Regions from separate parts of the Homo sapiens genome. Here regions 2, 3 and 4 are each linked to region 1. The links come from fine-mapping of genetic effects on gene expression. A gene starts in region 1. Each other region holds a variant in brackets. All regions are shown on one strand. Distances are between the middles of the regions. Region 1 holds the start of EYA3 (EYA transcriptional coactivator and phosphatase 3). Region 2 overlaps EYA3 (EYA transcriptional coactivator and phosphatase 3). Region 3 overlaps EYA3 (EYA transcriptional coactivator and phosphatase 3). Region 4 overlaps EYA3 (EYA transcriptional coactivator and phosphatase 3).

Region 1 (2,687 bases):
TCTCAAAATGAGAAAATGATAGTTTTACTACAAAGGTGGAAATGGTAAGGAAAAAAAAATACAAAAGTTAGAAGAATATTCTAAGTAATGTACTTCTAAGTAATGTAATTCTAAGTAAAGTCTGGCTAATGAAGGAAGAGGAAGACAAATAGAAAACTTAATACAGTAAAAATGAAAAAATGCATATGTGCATACTAAGTTTAAAGATTACTTTGAAATTACTATAGTGAACTCTTCAGCAGACCACTTTTCGGAAACAACACAATAAATTCATAAATCTGGGGCTAATGATCTCTCCACAAATTCTGTCCTCTATCATCACAAGTGTCCTGTAAGAAGCGTCCATGCCGAAAACAGAGCTGAACGTCCCAAAATATTGGCGTTTTTGCCTCAGCTGTGCACATCCATTCTCATGGGAACACAAAACTGACAGAACTTCTTCATGACTTGTCAATTAACAAGATCGCGCCAGCCCAACTGCTAGCAGTACCGTGTGCCTGCCACCTGTTAGCTGCTCTTGAGAGAGCCCCAAAACTGAGGTAAAGCGAAGAACTAGGAACGCCTTTGTTGTACCCTAACTATGGAAGCTACCAGAGTTCAGTCTAACCCGGCGCCTTAAGGCAAAACTTCCCCCAGGCTGGGGAAGTCTTCCCATTTCGGGGCTTTGGCAAAGCTCTCCTCTAGCTAAGGACAGGCAGAAGAACCCCAGGAGAAGCACTGTCACCTACTGGTCCCAGGAGGAAGGATCAAAGCTGAAGAAAGTTGGGGGACAAGGAACTAGGACCCTAGGGAGAGGCTCAGTTTCTCGTGGTGAAGAGTGAGCACAATGAGAAGCTGGGCCGTCTCGCTAGGTGAAAGAACGCTGAGATCCCAGATCAGGGGTAGGGGAAAAGAGGTTCTAAAAGAAGGGAGGAGGAGAAAAAAGGAGAGGCAGTGGCTGAGAGAAGCGCTGAGGCGTAAGGCAAGAAACCGAGGTTGGAAAAGGACTGATGAGGCTGAGGAAAAACAGCGAGGCGACAGAGGCACGGAAGCGCGAGAAGGCTAAGCTGAGGTGAATAAGGCGAGGCCAGCGTGAAGGAAAGGGCTGAGGTGAGTGAAGCACTGCAGTGACAAGGGACAGGCGAAGAGACTCCCACCCACAAGGACCGAGGCAGAACTCTAGACCCATCCCCCTTCACGCTGTGCTCGCCCGGCTGCGCTCAGACCCTGTTGGCAGCTGAGACTCACCCAAAGGCTGTAAAAGCCCCACAACAGGACATGGAGATCAGTCCAGACCCACAGTAGAACCAATCGAGCGGAGGAAACCGCGGCGTTAGCGTGACCCGGATGCGCATCGCTAGGAACCGGAAGTAAGCGGCCAGAGTCACCTCACAATCCACACCTCGTTCCACTAGAAACCTCTGGGCGCATGTGTTGAGTCTGACCGGGCGGGGAAGCTTTTAGGCTCCGCCCACTCCGCCGGCCCGGCGAGCCACGCCCATGGCCACGCCCCTCTTAGTGCCTCGGAGACAAGCAGCTTCTGGGTGAGCGCTAGGCAGTCCTGACGGTACTACAGCCTTCACTTTTAAGGAGGTCTTTAAAAATGCGCGTAATCCCTACCTGGCTAAAAGGAACGTAAGAAGTGTTGGGTGCATTTGGTAGATTTAGAAAAACTGGGAAGGAGAATGAGTGGGAAGTTTTGGAAGACATTTGGGAGGCTAGCCCAAGGTGATCTTTTTTTTTTTTTTTTTTTGAGACGGAGTTTCGCTCTTGTTGCCCAGGCTGGAGTGCAATGGCGCGATCTCGGCTCACTGCAACCTCCGCCTCCCGGGTTCAAGCGATCCTCCTGCCTCAGCCTTTCGAGTAGCTGGGATTACAGGCATGTGCCACCACGCCCGGCTAATTTTGTAGTTTTAGTAGAGACGGGGTTTCTCCATGTTGGTCAGGCTGGTCTTGAACTCCCGACCTCAGGTGATCCGCCCGCCTGGGCCTCCCAAAGTGCTGAGATTACAGGCGTGAGCCACCGCGCCCATCCCTTTTTTTTTTTCTTTTTTTGAGACAGAGTCTTGCTCTGTCGCCCAGGCTGGAGTGCAGTGGCGCGATCTCGGCTCACTGCAACCCCCGCCTCCTGGGTTCAAGTGATCCTCCCACCTCAGCCTCCCGAGTAGCTAAGACTACCGGCGCGCACCACCACGCCCGGCTAATTTTTGTATTTTTCGGTAGAGACGGGGTTTCGCCATGTTGCCCAGGCTGGTCTCCAACTCTGGAGCTCGGTTGATCCCTTGGCCTCCCAAAGTGCTGGGATTACAGGCGTGAGCCCCAAGGTGATCTTTTTATCCCCAAATTTAGTTTATTCTTAATATTATATTAGGCTTACAATTCACTTCGTGCACACTGTTTTCGGAAGCAAAATTCTTAAATGTTTCGTTAATTTTAAATTACAACCCAAGTATGGGCTAGAAGCAAGGTTGAATTCAGGCTTTGTGGAGACTTGACGTTTATTCAATTTGGGGGCCCTCTTTAAAATAATCAAGGCCAGGCACAGTGGCTCATGCCTGAAATCCTAGCACTTTGGGACGCCGAGGTCGACCGGTTGCTTGAGCCCCGGAGTTGGAGATCACCTGGGCAACAAAATTAGACCCTGTCTCTACAAAACAAACAAAGCAAAACAACAACAAAAAAAACCCAGAAAAATTAGCCAGGTGTGG
Region 2 (2,687 bases), 26 kb before region 1:
CCTTGTATTAGTTCTAGAATTTAACGTGTTTTTTTTTTTTGTCTTTTGTTTTTTGAGATGGAGTCTCGCTCTGTCGCCCAGGCTGGAGTGCAGTGGCGCGATCTCAGCTCACTGCAAGCTCCGCCTCCCAGGTTCACGCCATTCTCCTGCCTCAGCCTCCTGAATAGTTGGGACTACAGGCGCCCGCCACCACGCCCGGCTAATTTTTTGTATTTTTAGTAGAGACGCGGTTTCACCGTGTTAGCCAGGATGATCTCGATCTCCTGACCTCGTGATCCGCCCACCTCAGCCTCCCAAAGTGCTGGCATTACAGGTGTGAGCCACCGCGCCCGGTCAACGGTTTTTTTTTGTTTGTTTGTTTGTTTTTACCATTAATGTAACCTGACATTATTTTACATTCAGTGAGATTCATCTTTTAAAATATCAAGTAATACAACAGTTGTAACACAGAAGTGAAAAGTGGATTTTTAATGTAATTAAAATAAATTAAAACTTAGTCAAACAGCTGATGAAATTACAAGACATGCCCCGAGTTAATCTTTTAAGTACCTTTAGAACATTTGGAAAGTAATGTCTTTTCACAATTTTCTAATTTCAATTCTTACTACTGGTTTCTAAATACACTTGTTTTATCACCTTTTTTGGAAATAGAGCTTGTCAGTATTCATTTGCCTTCATGGACAGAATTCTGAGAAAATTTTAAATTGAGAATAGAAATAGTATTTCCTAAGACTTTACACTTCTCTACCTGTGAATGCTGACAGTGAAAAAATAGAAACTTTGGTTTGATTCAAGAGCCACACAATTTTGAATACTATTGAGATTTTGCATGCTTAAAAATAAAAGCAGGATCTTTCTGTAATATGGCAGCCATAAATTTTATTTTTACTCTTTAGAAGTTAGAAGGGAAATAATTAGTAACAAATATTTTATTTCAAAATTCAAATTAGATTCCTACCTCATAGTTTCTGTTTTGTCCCAAGTTCAACATACTATGTACCCTGTAAATGTAAATGGCCATAAGCAAGAAATTAGGTTGCTTCAATGTGTTATTAAAGCTCTTAGGCTTAGGAAGAGAAATTAAATATATGTAGGTGTGTGTGTGTGTGTGTGTGTGTGTGTGTGTGTGTTCTGTTTGTTTAAAAGCACAGAATAGGCTGGGTGCAGTGGCTCACACCTGTAATCCCAGCACTTTAGAAGGCCAAAGCAGGCGGATCACTTGAGGTCAGGAGTTTCAAACTAGCCTGGCCAACATGGTCAAACTCTGTCTCTCTTAAAAATACAAAAAATTAATCTGGCGTGGTGGCACGCGCCTGTAATTCCTGCTACTCAGGAGGCTGAGGGAGGAAAACTGCTTAAACTCAGAAGGCGGAGGTTGCAGTGAGCCGAGATTGCACCACTGCACTCCAGGCTGGGCGACAGGA[AACTG/A]ACTAACGCTCCATCTCAAAAAAAAAAAAAAAAAGCACAGAATAAAGGTCAAATTGTTTTCCATGAAAACAAGGCATATATCACTCTTAATTACAACTTCAAAAGAAGTGTCTAAGTAAGGCAAAGTCTGATTTATAGGTCCTAGAAAGAGAATTTGCATGCAGCTAAGTATGTACAGAGATATTCAGGAGTTAACTGGATATCTATGACACAGTCCCACATAGAAAAAAGGTAGTCCATAGATTTGCTCACTGACTACATTGTATTTTAAGTTTATTTACTACACTTTCCAAAGTGCCTTATATATATATATATTTTTTTTTATTTTTAATTTTTTTTGGGGGGGGAAATAACTAAAACCTTTTTTTTTTTTTTTTTTTTTGGAGACAGCATCTTGCTCTGTCACCCAGGCTGGAGCACAGCGGCGTAATCTCGGCTCACCGCAACTTCCACCTCCCCAGTTTAAGCAATTCTCATGCCTCAGCCTCCCAGGTAGCTGGGATTACAGGTGTGCGCCACCACACCTGGTTAATTTTTGTAGCGATGGGGTTTTGCCATGTTGGCCAGGATGGTCCCAGACTCCTGGCCTCAAGTGATCCACCAGCCTCGGCCTCTCAAAGTGCTGGGATTACAGGTGTGAGCCACCACATCCGGCCTAAAACCTTTATTAGATATGATTTTCCAATAATAATAATGTGCAAATTTGAATTATGAATTCAAAGAGCAGTGAAGTCTGAAATTTTAAAAGGTAGAATAGGTATTAGGGAACAAAAGGTAAAGGAAGATGAGAACGTTTAATACTATTCATTATCTCCTCTGTACACAATGTTGCATATACACAACTATTTCATTTTTATCTTATTGATTTAACAATAGTGAAATCACCTTAAGCAACCTACGGTATATAGTTGGTGTCCAACTTTGGGGGGGAAGGTAGAAACATACATGATTAACATTTTTCACCCACACATTTTAGACAATTTTTTTTTTTTGGCCAAGATTTTAGCAGCAAATTCATAAATATAAGAAGTACTTTCACTCATTCAATGTTAAAACAGAAAGCCAAATAGTGTCAACAGTAGTGGCTTAATTATTGGTATACAAGAAAAACAAAACACCAATAGGTTTTCTTAATTATGCACTTTAAATATTAATATGTGCATTTATTTTTAGTTATACATTTTTCACGTTTTAGACAATAGCCTTTAATAGTTTCAAATCCATTGAGACGTTGCTTTCAATTTCAAATAATGTGTGCA
Region 3 (2,687 bases), 66 kb before region 1:
GTTAAAAGTTTAATTCAAGCATTAATGGCACATAAAAGTTTGTGCAAGATTTAGTTTTTACCCACCTCTCTAATTTTAGATCATGTCACTTCACCTCCTTTGCTCACACTGTCTTTCTTTAAGTTACTCAAAACCGGACAAGCTCTTTATCATTTGAGGACTTTTGCAATATTGTTCTCTCTGCCTAGACTGTTCTCTCCAACCCCCTTGCCTTCCCAGCATGATGGCTCCTCAGCATGACTCACTTCCTCAAAGAGGGTCTTTTTGACCTATTAAAACCAAGACCTTTTCTGTTTTCTTAATCACAGTGATCAATTTTTTTTTCAGAGCACTGTTCAAAATCTGTTATGTATTTACTCACTTGTTTTCTCCCCCGCACCCCACTAGTCTGTAAGCTCCAAAAAGGCAGAATCCTGCTGTCTTATAATCTCCAGCATCTAGCAAAGCACCTGACATACAGCAGGTGATGGTCAATAAATATTTGTGGGATTCATATACATCTATCTTGTGTGCACTAAGTGTGAAGGGCAAAATCATTCTTCTTTTTTTTTTTTTAGATGCACTCTCACTCTGTCACCCCGGCTGGAGTGCAGTGGTATGATCTTGGCTCACTGCAACCTCTGCCTCCCTGGTTCAGGCGATTCTCGTGCCTCAGCCTCCCCGAGTAGCTGGGATTACAGGTGCCTGACACTACTCCCAACTAATTTTTGTATTTTTAGTAGAAACGGGGTTTCACCATGTTGGTCAGGCTGGTCTCAAACTCCTGACCTCAAGTGATCTGCCCACCTCAGCCTCTCAAAGTGCTGGGATTACAGGCATGAGCCACCGCGCCCAGCCTAAAATCATTATTTTCTGCTAAAGGCTGACAGGTGGGTTCCTAAAACTTACTCTCATTATGTGACTAATATAACTGACAATTCCTGATCCAGTAGAAGCTGTACATATTTTGGTTAAAACTGATTGCCTAAGTGGGTCATTCGTTCACTTAATCCTTTATCAAATATTTATTGAGTGCCTACTATGTGCAAGCACTGCTCCACACAAGGAGCTTAGTAAATCAAAATAATAAAAATCTCCTAATAAAAGATTATTATTTTTTGAGACAGAGTCTCGCTCTGTCGCCCAGGCTGGAGTGCAGTGGCGC[G/A]ATCTCGACTCACTGCAAGCTCCGCCTCCTGGGTTCACACCATTCTCCTGCCTCAGCCTCCCAAGTAGCTGGGACTACAAGCACCCACCACCACACCCAGATAATTTTTTGTATTTTTAGTAGAGACAGGATTTCACCATGTTAGCCAGGATGGTCTCGATCTCCTGACCTCGTGATCTGCCTGCATCCACCTCCCAAAGTGCTGGGATTACAGGTATGAGCCACCGCGCCCGGCCTAAAAGATTCTCATTGCTGGAGTGGAGATTTTCAGATCAATAAGGGACAGGGTTTAGAATGATCTATGTAATAATGGATCAGAGCTCAAGAAATCAGTAAGAATTCATGTTTAACTCAACACAGATACAGATTACGACATACAGAAATATTTATAGATATGTGTATTTACATAGGTTAGTATACCTACATATATTTGTTTGCTCTGTCAGCTGAGAAAGCCTAAAATAAATGTCACCTGACACCTCAGTAGCAATTAGCACCCCTCAAGCTCAGATCTTTTTTTTGAGACAGGGTCTCACTCTGTTACCCAGGCTGGAGTTCAGTGGTGCGATCACAGCTCACTGAGGCCTCGACCTCCTAAGGCTCAGGCGATCCTCCCACCTCAGCCTCCCCAAGTAGCTGGGACTACAGGCACGCACCACTGCACTTGGCTAATTTTTATATTTTTTGTAGAGATGGGGTTTTGCCTTGTTGCCCAGGCTGGAAGCCCAAATCTTGGTTTTGAATACCATTTTTTCCAATAAAAGGAACCAGGATTCCTTAAAAAAAATGGTTGATAATAGGACTTGAATAAGTAATATACAAGATGAGCCTGGAGCATCTTGTAGTGCCAGGAAGTAAGAAAGTGCTGGGTGGGGGGGGGGGGGAAAACCAAAAACTAAAAAAATGGGAGTATGTCAAAAGGCATAGGAGCCAACTGAAAGAGCTCCCAGTGGCCAAACTGGAACAAAATAAATAAAGTAGTATTGGATTATAACCCAAAGTATAAATTAAATATCTAGGAGTCCACAAAAAAATGACTGAATAAATCAACAAACTGGGGAGAAGAGACAAATCTGGGCAGAAGAATTCCAAATACATTATGTAGATATTCTACCCTAAAGAAGGGGCAGCATGATTCCTTAACTGTGGGCTGTACATAGTGAATTCTATCTAAAGAATACAGTACAGAAAGGGAGGAAAGAGTAACTTTATGGAGAAAACTGACAAACACTACTTCAATTAGGTAATCAAGGTCAACATCAACAGTCATAAATAATGATGATAGTATGGCACCTTGCCTTTGTGACCTTCCTCCTTAAAATCCATAACCCCAGCGTAATAATGAGAAAAACATCAGATAAATTCTCTAAGAGTGGGGCATCTTAAAATATACCTGGACCAGTACTCCTCAAAACTGTCAAGGTCATTAAAAGCAAGGAAAAGCCTGAGAAACTACAAAGTCTAGAAGAGCCTAAGGAGACATAACTAAATGTAATTTGGTATCCTGGATGGAATCCCGGAACAGAACAAGGACATCATATAA
Region 4 (2,687 bases), 71 kb before region 1:
AGGTGGGAACTCAATAAATATTTGTGGACTAAAAGAATAAACAAGGCTGGGCGCGGTGGCTCACACCTGTAATCCCAGCACTTTGGGAGGCCAAGGCGGGTGCGGTTCACTCTAAGTCAGGAGTTTGAGACCAGCCTGGCCAACATGTGAAACCTCATCTCTACTAAAAACACAAAAATTAGCTGGGCATGGTGGCACATGACTATAGTTCCAGCTACTCAGGAGGCTGAGGCAGGATAATCACTTGAACCTGAGAGGCAGAGGTTGCAGTGAGCCAAGATCGCACCACTGTACTCCAGCCTGGGCGACAGAGTGAGTGAGACTCCATCTTAAAAAAAAAAAAAAAAAAAGCAAAACCAGTATAATAACCAGAATAGTAATGTTAACTGTAGCCAGGAAAAGATCCAAGGAGACAGTGGTGATGATAATTGCTGTAGAGAAAACAAATCAAAACAAAAATAAAAAACTCTAGAACACTGAAGGTGTTACCAGTGATCTCCTAAGCATAGTTAACATAACAGTGATCAAGAATAGACCACAAAAAATTCATAAAGAATGAGTTGTTCATTCCATAAATATTTATCAAGTGCCTTTGATGTAAGTGGCAGGCATTTTTCTATACTCTGGGAATATGTAAATGAACAAAACAGAAAAATAAATCCCTACCTTCATGCAGCTTACATTCTAGTAGGGGCAGAGTAGGAAGTGAAGACAAATACAGTAAAGAAACAGACATAACCATATTCTAGAGAGACCCAGCAGAGGAACAACAAAAACTAGACAGTAACCTAAGATGCCATCCAGGGTCCGAGTTCTGAAGGTATCCAGAAAAAAGTCTCCACAGCCCATACTATTCCTGGTTGTTTCTTAGATAGGCAAATTGACCATGGAAAGAAGAAAGAGCAAGCTGGATGAACTCTATCAAACAGGATGAACAAAGGTAGCATCATACCTGGTTTGAGATGCTGGCTACTGCTGCTGCTGGAATATTGGCAATTGTAGAAGAAGTAGATATCAGGCTGGCATTTGTGCTTGAAGCTAGAGGATTGATGGGGTTAAAAGATATTAAAGATATTATGTAAAAGGTTAGAAGAAACTGAAAATAGATGTGTTTTAAGTGAACAGATTTATAAGGAGATAAACAACATTGGCAAAGGAAACAAACACTCGTTTTGCTTTTTTGT[G/A]TGGGATAGCTACATTTACACTTGGTTAAAAACAAAACATTTGAAACATCTTTCTGTTTCAACTTGAGTCTTCAATTCTTCTTATTAAAGGCCTAAAAGGATATATATTCAATTCACAGCTCATACTAATAATATCAATGAAATCACAGCTAAATCCAATTCCTCCAGCCCATCTTCTCCAGAGGCTGAAAAATGACTCACCTGCAATGTGACCTACTGTAAAGCAGTAGAACTCTGGTAAATCTTACACTGTGATATTGTTTGCTGTCACTTGCCCCAAGTTACGCCTTTCCTAATACAACATAATTACATGAGAAATAGAGCTGGTCCTCCAAATTCCAAAGCATTTAGAATTGCTTCTTGAGTTCTACTCAAATAATAGATTACTAATGTGGATCAATAAACACAATGACATAGCATTTAGAGACTTTAACAATGAGCCTGGAAAAACTCAGAAAATATTAAATATTACTCTGGTCAGATAAAAATGTACCTTATATGATACTTGGGCTGTCTTAAGTAATTTGAGGCCAGGTGTGGTGGCTCATGCCTGTATCCCAGCACTTTCGGAGGCCGAGGCAGGCAGATCATTTGAGGCCAGGAGTTTGAGACCAGCCTTGCCAACGTGGTGAAACCCCATCTCTACTAAAAATATAAAAATGAACTGGGTATGGTGGGCACGGGCCTGTAATCCCAGTTACTCAGGAGGCTGAGACATGAGAATCGCTTGAACTCAGGAAGTGGAGGTTGCAATGAGCCAAAATCGCATGACTGCACTACAGCCTGGGTGACAGAGCAAGACTCTGTCTCAAAAAAAAAGAAAAGAAAAAAGAAAAAAAAGAAAGAAAATGCTGATTTCCATTCACATAAAACAATAAAAATAAAGACAAGTAATTTGGGTTAAGTTTTATACTTCTTCTGTCATAGGTTCATTCTACTAGGGTTTTAATCAAAATCTCAATGACTAGCACTAACCAGTGACTTTTCTCAGGTGAACAATGTAACTGATATTATCAGTACTGTTCTCAAACTCCTTGTCCTCATTTATCATAAACACACTTAGACATGGTTCCTACTGCAGGTACACACACCATATGGGTTCACCATCAGGTAGACCTGACTAACTGACTACCTGCCCCATTAACAAAGTCCCCCAGAGAGAAAATTAGTAAGAAAACTTCCATTGAGAACAGGGCAGGAGAACAAATGCAATAGAAACTTAAGTGCTCTGGTCAAAATTAGATAATTTTCATCCCTTTCCCTAAGGGTACTCGGCTTAGAAGACAATCCAGAAGACAGTAAGTTCAGTTACAGCTATTGCTGCAACCCCAGCTTTAAGATGAAGAACCTAGGACAAAGAAGAATTAAAGTAACTTGTCCACAGCAGCAAAAATAATGGAAGATAACCAAAATGACAACTTGGATCTCCCAATTCTTCATCCAGTGCTTCTTCCTCAGGGTCAGCAGCTAAGCTAGGGTTCAAATTCCCTAACTATGGCCAGG

The links. PIP is the estimated chance that this variant, and not a neighbour inherited with it, causes the effect.
Region 2: its variant is the best candidate, but not a certain one, in a credible set for the expression of EYA3 in whole blood (INTERVAL, PIP 0.70).
Region 3: its variant is the best candidate, but not a certain one, in a credible set for the expression of EYA3 in gastroesophageal junction (GTEx, PIP 0.59).
Region 4: its variant is the best candidate, but not a certain one, in a credible set for the expression of EYA3 in whole blood (TOPMed, PIP 0.60).

The regions. Positions count from the first base shown.
Region 1 is chr1:28,087,297-28,089,983 of GRCh38, forward strand. EYA3 (EYA transcriptional coactivator and phosphatase 3) reads right to left here and starts at 1,314. Exons shown (of 18, transcript NM_001990.4): 1 at 1,228-1,314. RefSeq lists enhancers at 914-973, 1,184-1,253.
Region 2 is chr1:28,061,564-28,064,250 of GRCh38, forward strand. The region is part of intron 1 of EYA3 (EYA transcriptional coactivator and phosphatase 3); the gene reads right to left. Among named protein-coding and RNA genes, the nearest start is that of EYA3, 26 kb to the right of the region's middle. The variant AACTG/A (reference allele first, on the strand shown) is at 1,425.
Region 3 is chr1:28,021,068-28,023,754 of GRCh38, forward strand. All of the region lies in intron 7 of EYA3 (EYA transcriptional coactivator and phosphatase 3), which reads right to left. Among named protein-coding and RNA genes, the nearest start is that of XKR8, 62 kb to the left of the region's middle. The variant G/A (reference allele first, on the strand shown) is at 1,145.
Region 4 is chr1:28,016,202-28,018,888 of GRCh38, forward strand. EYA3 (EYA transcriptional coactivator and phosphatase 3) reads right to left here. Exons shown (of 18, transcript NM_001990.4): 8 at 953-1,038. Among named protein-coding and RNA genes, the nearest start is that of XKR8, 58 kb to the left of the region's middle. The variant G/A (reference allele first, on the strand shown) is at 1,185.